2 separate regions of the Homo sapiens genome follow, and region 2 is linked to region 1. Evidence: fine-mapped expression QTL. A gene starts in region 1. The other region holds a variant in brackets. All regions are shown on one strand. Distances are from middle to middle. Region 1 holds the start of ERFL (ETS repressor factor like). Region 2 overlaps ARHGEF1 (Rho guanine nucleotide exchange factor 1).

Evidence for each region. PIP is the estimated chance that this variant, and not a neighbour inherited with it, causes the effect.
Region 2: its variant is the best candidate, but not a certain one, in a credible set for the expression of ERFL in whole blood (TOPMed, PIP 0.75).

The regions. Positions count from the first base shown.
Region 1 is chr19:41,926,278-41,930,653 of GRCh38, reverse strand. It overlaps ERFL (ETS repressor factor like), which reads left to right and starts at 2,205. Exons shown (of 6, transcript NM_001365103.2): 1 at 2,205-2,614. It also overlaps a transcript of ARHGEF1 not described here. RefSeq lists an enhancer at 1,308-1,808 and a silencer at 2,080-2,259.
Region 2 is chr19:41,893,016-41,897,391 of GRCh38, reverse strand. ARHGEF1 (Rho guanine nucleotide exchange factor 1) reads right to left here. Exons shown (of 29, transcript NM_004706.4): 8 at 4,089-4,118; 9 at 3,086-3,185; 10 at 2,845-2,941; 11 at 2,731-2,766; 12 at 1,906-2,043; 13 at 910-1,015. Among named protein-coding and RNA genes, the nearest start is that of ARHGEF1, 12 kb to the right of the region's middle. RefSeq lists enhancers at 938-1,480, 2,440-2,940. The variant C/T (reference allele first, on the strand shown) is at 2,645.

The DNA of each region.
Region 1 (4,376 bases):
AGGAGTCATATCTACCCAGAGGGTGTCACCTTTCTCCCAAAGGGTGTCCTGTGTGGGAGGAGTCCTGCCTTCCAGAGGGTGTTCCGGAACCTCCTCCTTGGCTTTCAGAGCCAAGAGGGGGCTCTGTAGTGTGCTGGGTGTAGAGGGGGAATGCTCTCTGTAGTGTGCTGGGTGTTACAGATAAACTCAGAGATAGACACAGATACACATACACAGACCTGCCATCTACACACGCAGCACACACGTGCATACCGTAATACAGGAAGTGGGAACACACGACCCGTACATGGAGACATTCAGGCACACGCACAGAAACATATGCACAAACACTGTAGCTGGTGACCTGTGTTCAAGTAGGCTGTGGACAGTCCCGGGGCTGTTATGGACACCCAGAGAACCATGGCTCTGGGGGAAAGGGTCGTAAATGGAGCCCAGTGAAGCCTGTTGGCTCCTTGAAAGAATGTTCCCTTTCAGACAAGTGAAGGTACAGACAAGTGAAGGAATTCTTGTTATCTGGCAAAATTCTTAATATTTTTAATGAGATTATTCGGAAGCAGCAAGCTCACAGCAAATGCGTGTTTACTTGGTACTTGGTGCAGTACCAGCTGTGCTCCATGCGCCCTGCGGTTTAACCTTCCCAACCACTCTAGGAGGGAGGTCATTATTGTCCCATTTTGCAGATGAGGAAACTTGAGGCTCGGGGATGTTTAGCGACTTGCCTGAGTGAGTGGTGAGCGGGAGTGAGGCTGAACCTTCTCTGTCAGGCAGGGCTGAAGTTCTCTTCTAGCCTCTCAGCACCTCGGTCTCAGCACCTGGGCGCTGGTGGGGTTGGTGAGATCCGACAGAGCTGTCCTGGCCCCTGAATATCCACCTGGGGACTGCTGTCTTGCCGTGAGACCTATTTTCCCCTCTAGGGGTAGAAGCCTCCAGGGGCTGCCCAGGTGAGAGCTGCCTTTCCCCAGAGAAGGTGGTGTGGGACTTGGCGGGGCGGAGCCTGACCTGGGAATGGGAGAGAAAAGTCGGGGGTGGTGGGTTGGGGAGTGGAAGCGGGAGAGAGGGCAGGGTGAGGGGCAAGGGGCGAGGGGCAAGGGGCAAGGGAGGGAATAGGAGGGTAGACAGTGAGGGTGAGGGTCAGGTTGGGCCAGGAGGTCCGGCCGGCCGGGAGCTGAACTGTGGGTCTGACCCGCCCTGAGGCTGGTCGATATTGACTTGTTATTTCAATGGGAGCAGATCTGGCTGGGCAGGGCCCTTTCCTGTCACTGTAGGTGTGCGTGTGTGTGCCTGTGACCTTGTGGGAGTGTGAAGGGGAGTGTCAGTGTGCCAGCCCTGGGTTCTGCCTATGTGTTAGTGAGGGCTTGTGTGTCCAGGCTGTGTGTTGGGAGTGGAGTGTGGCTGTGTGTGCATCTGGTTGTCTTTGTGTCCAGTTTGTGGGTCAGTGGATCAGGGAGTGGCTGTGGGTTGGGGAAGGTGTGGTGTGCAGGCTGTGTTTGTGCATATGTTTCTCTGTGTGTGCCTGAATGTCTCCGTGTACCGGTTGTGTTTCCACTTCCTGTATTACGGTCCGCATGTGTGTGCTGCGTGTATAGATGGCAGGTCTGTGTGTGTGTGTCTGTGTCTGTCTCTCTGTAGGGTTGTGTGTCCCTGAGTGTGTGTTTGCACTGTCTTACTGTATCCATATGTCCCTCTGTCCGTGTATCTCCTATCCAGGCTGCGTGTGTGCGGGTCCGTGTTCCAGTCCCGGTCCAGGCTTGCGTGTCCAGCAGGGGTCCTGGACGCATCGTCGCCACCTCCACCTCGCGCCTGTCCGTTTGTCCGCGCGTCCACTTAGGGAGGAGCGGGGCGGAGGAGAAGGGAAGGGGAGAGGAGGGGGGTCTCTCCACCTCTCCACCCACCCCCGCCCCACCCCCACTCCCTCAGTCCCGGGATCGAACCTTATTTAGAGTCGCGATTCGACATCTGTTTTCAAATTTGATCAGCTCTGAACTTTATTTTCCGAGTTTGAGGAAAATTATATTCCATCGATCGCGCCCCCGCCCCCTCCCCCGCGCCGCCGCCGCCGCCTCCATATATCTGCGAGCCGAGCCCGGCCGGGCGGCCGCGAGGGCGGGAGGCGCGCGGCGCGCAGAGGAGTGGAGGGAGGAGGAGGAGAACGAGGAGGAGGAGGAGCAGGAGGAAGAGGAGGAAGAGGAGAAGGCGCAGGAGGCAGGGCCGCCCCGCGCCCCCAGCCGGCCAGGCTGTCCCCGGCGCGCGCCCGCCCGCGCTCGCTGTGCTGAGCTCCAGCCCGGAGCTCCGTCCTCAGCTCTCCCCGTCTCTGCTCTCTTTGCGCGTCTATCTCGCTGTCTCTCTCCCTCTCTGCATCTCCCCGTCTCTGCTCGTCTCCCCGTCTCTGTCTCCTTGGCTGTCTCTCCGTCTCTGAGTCTCTCCTGTCCCGGCGTCTCAGAGACTCCCTCTCCTCGTCCTCTGGGTCTCTGCCTCCCCGGGGCTCCGGGCATCTCCCCCCACCCCGCCCCTCGCCCCGGTGCCCCCTCCCCAGGACGCCGCGGGGGCCATGGCTGCGGGATCCGAACTTTAAACACTTCTCCCCGGACCGGAGCGGATGCGAAAAGCCCAGAAAGTGAGTGAGCGCCGCGGCCGGCGCAGGGGCGGGGAGGGGGCGGGGATTCCCGCCCCAGGAGGGGGCGGGCGCGGGGGTGGTCCCGGGAGGCCTGAGAAGCTGGGCCTCCGAGCCGGTGGAGGGGTAGGCGGATGGGGTCATCCGCCCCGGCTGTAAGGGGCAGGTGGGGCAGCGCCCAACTCTGGGAAGGTGGGAGGCGGGTAGCGCTAGAGGTGCGGCCTCGGGACAGGGGTGCGAGATTTGGGGGCGGGGAGGGAGAGCGAGTGAGAGCCACGGAGATGGGGTCTGCAAGAGACTGGACTGAAAATCTGGGAACGGGGGTTGGTGGCCGACCTGAAGGTGGATTTGGATGTTTGGGGCTGAGGAGTCTGGATATTTGGGGCTAGATTCTGAGTGGGGTTTAGAGGTCAGGGCTGAGGGCTTGCATATTTGGGACCTAGGGGCTCAAAGCCAAGAGACTGGACACTTGGGGCGGAAGATCTAGATATCTGAGGTTGGGAGCTGACTGGGGCTGGGAGTCAGGACTGGGGGTGTGGATATCTGGGACTGGGGATCAGCATAGGAGTTTGGACTTGAGGGGGCCAGAAGTCTGGATTTGGAGTTGGAGTTCAAAGCTAAGGGTCTGCGAATTTGGATCTGGATATCTGGGGTCTGGATATTTGGTATGAGGGGTCACAGGGTCTGTGGGAAGGACATTTGGGCCAATTCTGGGGTCTGCACACTTCGGGGCAAGGAGTACAGGCCTGGCCCTGACCTTCGTGGGGCCGGGGCCCTCTGGGACACCCTTTCTATCATTCCACCACTGTCGCAGGGCCCTGCTGGGCCACTTCTGTTATCTCTCCCCTGGCTGGGTCTCTCCTCACTGTCTCTCTGTCTCTGTCTCTCACAGCATCTCTGTGTCCACCTCTAACTCTCCCAGGATCTGTCTCTCTATCTCTGTCTCTCACAGCATCTCTCTCTTCCTTTTTGGGTCCAACTCTTAAGACTATCTCTCTCTAAATCTCTGTGCTTATCTCTCCCTGTGTCTCTTCCTTTCTCGGCATCTATCTCTCTCTCTTCCTTTCTCGGCATCTCTTTCTATCTCTCTCTCTCTGCCTCTTTCTGTCTCTTACTGTCTCTCTGTCTCTGTCTCTCCCAGCATCTCTGTCTCTGTCTCCCCCTCGCTGGTTTCCGCTCAGATTAAGCCGGGGACCTAATTCCAGGCCCAGGATCGAATTTTCTGGCAACAAAGGGAAATAGCGAATCGATCGGTCGCTCTGGAGATTAAGAGACAAGCGGCGCGCGGATCTATCACGGCTAAACGGCCCCCCCGCCCGCTCCCCCCTCCCGGCCGGCCGCCGCGGCCCAGACGCGCTCCGCATCGCCAAGCAGCCTCAGGGGCCCTGGCTGCCCGGCAGGCCAGCAGGCCAGGCCTCGCCTAGCCCAGAGCTAACTCTGTGCCCCACCCAGGGCCAGAGCCACGGGAGGGACCCGAGAGCCAGAACTGGCTCCCCAGGGAGGGGAGGACAGGGGAGCGAGAGAAATCGAGGTGGCAGACCATCTGGCAGAGTCACACTGCACCCACCTGTGGCCTCAGGTAACTAACCTTTCACACCTGTCTATCAATGCACCTGTCACATCCATGTTCCCCCTTCAACTCCCCAAATCTGGACTTCCAGGTAACATCTATCTCCTCATACCTGCCTGCACGCAACACCTGTCCTCCATACCTGTTCCCTTCATCTGCCCTGGAGGTAACACCTATTTCCTCTCACCTGCCCCT
Region 2 (4,376 bases), 33 kb after region 1:
GGGGAGGGGCTGGGAGAAATGGGGGAGGGGCTAGCCCTTCCCCCACCCAGGGCCCAGGCACCCACCTCTTCCACCTTCTGGGGAGAGAGGGGCACAGGGTCAGAGGTGGGCCCAGATGGAACCTGACCCACCTCCCCGCACCCACCAAAGGGTCCCCAAAGCAGCGGCACAAGGACGGGCAGGAGGCAGAGCCTGCCCCCCAGCTGTAAGGGGGACAGGGCCCCCAGGGCACAGAGCAGAGGGGTGGGGGGTTGAGGGACGGGCACCAGGAGGCAGGAGCGAGGCGGGGGGTGGGGGGCAGGGGGCAGGGGGGCTTGAAAGAGAAGGGGAGGAAGGGCTGAAAAAATGAAAAGTGGCAGGGAGATCGGAGGGGGATGGAAGGTGGGGAAAGAAAACCCAGGTGAGAGAGGAGTGGGGAGGAAAGAGAGGAGGGGGAAGGTGAGAGAGGAGGGGGGAGGTGAGAGAGGAAGAGGGAGGTGAGAGAAGAGAGGGGAGGTGAGAGAGGAGCGGGGAGGTGAGAGGAGGGGGTAGGTGAGAGAGGAGGGGGGAGGTGAGAGAGGATGGGGGAGGTGAGAGAGGAGAGGGGAGGTGAGAGAGGAGGGGGAAATAAAGGAGATGGAAGGAGTGGTGGAGAGGAAGGGAGGAGGAGAAGGATTAGTGAAAAAAGGAAGGAGAGGAAGGAGCAGAGGAAAAAGGAAGGATAAAAGGAAAGGGGGGCAATGAGGAAGCAGGAGGGAGATGAGAAAAGGAAAGAAGAAGGGAGAGGAATGGCCAGACCCAGAGAGCAGCAGAGGAGCATGGGGAGCAAGAGCCTGGGACAGGCAGGCACAGATGGCAGCGGTGACCCTGCACCCACCCACCAGCGCCCAGTAAGCCACACCTCCCGCCCCTGCACCCCAGCCTGGGCACCTCTCGGTTTCGGCCCCCTCGTCGGTACTCTCTGGGGGCGCCAAGGACTCCAGGCTCATTGGGCCCTGCGGGGATGAGTCCCCCAGCTCCAGGGGGGCGTCAGCACCTGTGGGGTGGAGGGAGCAGGGCTGGCTGGAAGGCCTCTGCGGCCACGAGACCCACACTCTGGGGGCCTGGAATTGCGGGGGCTAAAGCTACCCAGTGCCTGGCAGACACCACATGGCTGCTCTGTACTTCAGCACGGGACGGACAGATGTTAAGACCTCTCAGAACATGGCCACTAGGGGCAGGAGCATGAAGATGCAACAGAAGTGGGTGCCCCTGTGTGTCCTGGGTGGATGGGGACCCCAGGCCTAGCAAATAGGTCACAAACATCTCTCCCACCCAACCAGACTGCAGCCCCCTGAGGTCGGGAGGGCCCTGGATTCTGTGCTGCCTCCACGTCCATTCATCCTCCCCACCCTCTCATACTCCTTTAGAGAAAAGCAAACGGAGGCTAAGAAAGGGGAGTCATATCCAAGATACTAAATAAACACAAGCAGTCAGCAGAGCTGGTGTGTGAGCCCTGGCCTGGCCATGCAGAGATCCAAGGGCCTGAGGCCACAGCAGTGTAAGGATGGTGAGGGATGAAGCTCATGGGGCTGGCGGGCTCCCCACCTAGGGGGCCAGCAATGCAGCTCAGAGGGTGGACTGGTCATGTACTCAGGGAAGGTTCTGGAAAAGGAAGGGTTGATGGAAAACGTAGTCCAAGGGGGTGGGAGACGCAGCACCAGCAGAGAGGTCAGAGCCTGGGAGCAAAGCTGTGGAAAGGGCAAACTGAGGGAAGGGGAAAGTTATGAATGACAGTGGTGACCAGGAGCAGGGAGAAGTGGATGCTGAGAGCAAAGGGGAGGTGTTGCTGGGGAATGGCTTCTATCTGGGGGTGCCAAGGGGGCAGGCAGCACCCCCACCCTGGATCGCCGGGCCTCATGGAGCCCTGGCCCAGGAAACTCTCACCTGGTTCCCGGTCTGGGCTGTCCAGGGACAGAGGGTGCAGAGAGACTCCAGGGGTGTCCTGCCCAGGAGCCCCGATATTCCGGTCCCGAGAGGGCATCCCCACGCCTCCCTTCCGGTCTGTAGCACCTGGCTTCTCGGCTGGGGAGACAGTGAGGGAGAAAGAGGGAGATAAGAGAACAGTAACTCAAATCCACAACCGCCAGGGGATGCAAGAGGCTGTGCTCAGGCCCTTCCCCACCATGACAAGGAGCCCCTTCCTCCCTCAGACCCAGGAGCCCTCAACCCCTCCTCCCTCAGACACAGGAGTCCAGGCCCCCAGCCCCTCCTCCCTCAGACCCAGAGGTCCAGGCCCCAGGCCTTCCTCCCTCAGACCCAGGAACTCCCCCAGCCCCTCCTCCCTCAGACCCAGGGGTCTAGGCCCAGCCCTTCCTCCTCAGACCTAAGAGTCCGAGTCTGAGCCGCTCCTCCCTCAGACCCAGGGGTCCAGGCCCAATCCCTCCTACCTCGGACCCAGGGGTCCAGGCCCCAGGCCTCCCTCCCTCAGACCCAGGAGCTCCCCCAGCCCCTCCTCCCTCAGAGCCAGGGGTCCAGGCCCAGTCCCTCCTCCCTCAGACCCAGGGGTCCAGGCCCAGCCCTTCCTCCCTCAGACCCAGGAGCTCCCCCAGCCCCTCCTCCCTCAGACCCAGGTGTCCAGGCCCCCATCCCCTCCTCCCTCAGAACCAGGCGTCCAGGTCCCAGC[C/T]CCTCCTCCCTCAGACCCAGGCGTCCAGGTCCTAGCCTCTCCCACACAGGCCCCCAGTATGGATGCTATGGCTACAGGTACATTACCATCAACCTCTGCTTTGAGGTGTCGAAAATCTGGAACTGAAACGAGAGAGAATGAGACAGTGAGTGGGAGCAGCTGGGGAAGACAGGGGAGGGCAGAGGCCAGAGCCGCCTTACCCTGGGGCTCTCCCCGGTTCCAGCGGGCGGCATCCAGGATGCTGCTCAGCCCCTTCTTGGTCTTGGCAGGCTCGTCCGACCGCCGGTTCCCCATCACCTGTGAGAGGGCGGGGAGGAAGACCAGGCTAAGCATCTCTGAGACAACAACAAAGCAGAATTTGACGCTAGGTATCCAGAGTCATGAGGCTCCCAGGGCGTCTCTGGAGAGGAAAGGGTCAGGACGGGGCACTGAGGGAAGCACCTTTTTCCGGAAGAAGTTCCTCCCCGACTTCTTGTCTCCACTCTTGGTCCGCACCCCAAGGTGGCGCATGTACAGGCCAATGGCGTTGACCACGGCAGCACTGTAGGGAAGGGACAGTGAGGGCTCAACACACACAAAGACACACACACACACACACACACACACACACACTCACACACACACTCTCTCTCTCTCCCCCTAGAGGCAGAGGCCCGGCCTTCCCATCCTGACCCCACAACTACTTCCTGTGAGACTCTGAGGAGAGATGAGAGGGTTCAAAAGGACAGGGGCAAGGGCTGTTACCCAATGCCCAGGACCCAAGTGTCCAGGCCCCAGGCTCCTCCTCCCTCAGACCCAGGAGTCCAGGCCCCCAGCCCCCTCCTCCCTCAGACCCAGGAGTCCAGGCCCCCAGCCCCCTCCTCCCTCAGACCCAGGAGTCCAGGCCCCCAGCCCCTTCCTCCCTCAGACCCAGGAGTCCAGGCCCCCAGCCCCCTCCTCCCTCAGACCCAGGAGTCCAGACCCCCCAGCCCCCTCCTCCCTCAGACCCAGGCGTCCAGGCCCCCCAGCCCCCTCCTCCCTCAGACCCAGACGTCCAGGCCCCCCAGCCCCTTCCTCCCTCAGACCCAGGAGTCCAGGCCCCCAGCCTCCTCCTCCCTCAGACCCAGGAGTCCAGGCCCCCAGCCCCCTCCTCCCTCAGACCCAGGCGTCCAGGCCCCCAGCCCCCTCCTCCCTCAGACCCAGGCGTCCAGGACCCCAGCCCCCTCCTCCCTCAGACCCAGGCGTCCAGGCCCCCCAGCCCCCTCCTCCCTCAGACCCAGGCGTCCAGGCCCCCCAGCCCCCTCCTCCCTCAGACCCAGGCGTCTAGGCCCCCCAGCCCCCTCCTCCCTCAGACCCAGGCGTCCAGGCCCCCCAGCCTCCTCCTCCCTCAGACCCAGGAGTCCAGGCCCTCAGCCCCCTCCTCCCTCAAACCCAGGAGGCCGCACGCCTCCCCTGCCCCCCTCACCTCTTTTCTTCGTCGGTAGAGATGGTATGTCTGTAGGAGGAAGAGAGATGTTTGTGACATATTTGCTAGGCCTGGGGTCCCCATCCACCCAGGATACATCTCAGGGTTGCTGTCCTGGGATAGGCAGGGGGAAGAGAGACAGAGAGGGGACACTGTGGAAGGGATTGGGAAGGACTGTCATAAGAGGGAGGGAGGTCTCTCATCCAGGAGGATGGGATCCAAGTGCCAGATCATGGACAAGACCCAGAAATGACAAGGGAACCCCAAAGCTGGAAAGGGAAGACTCGG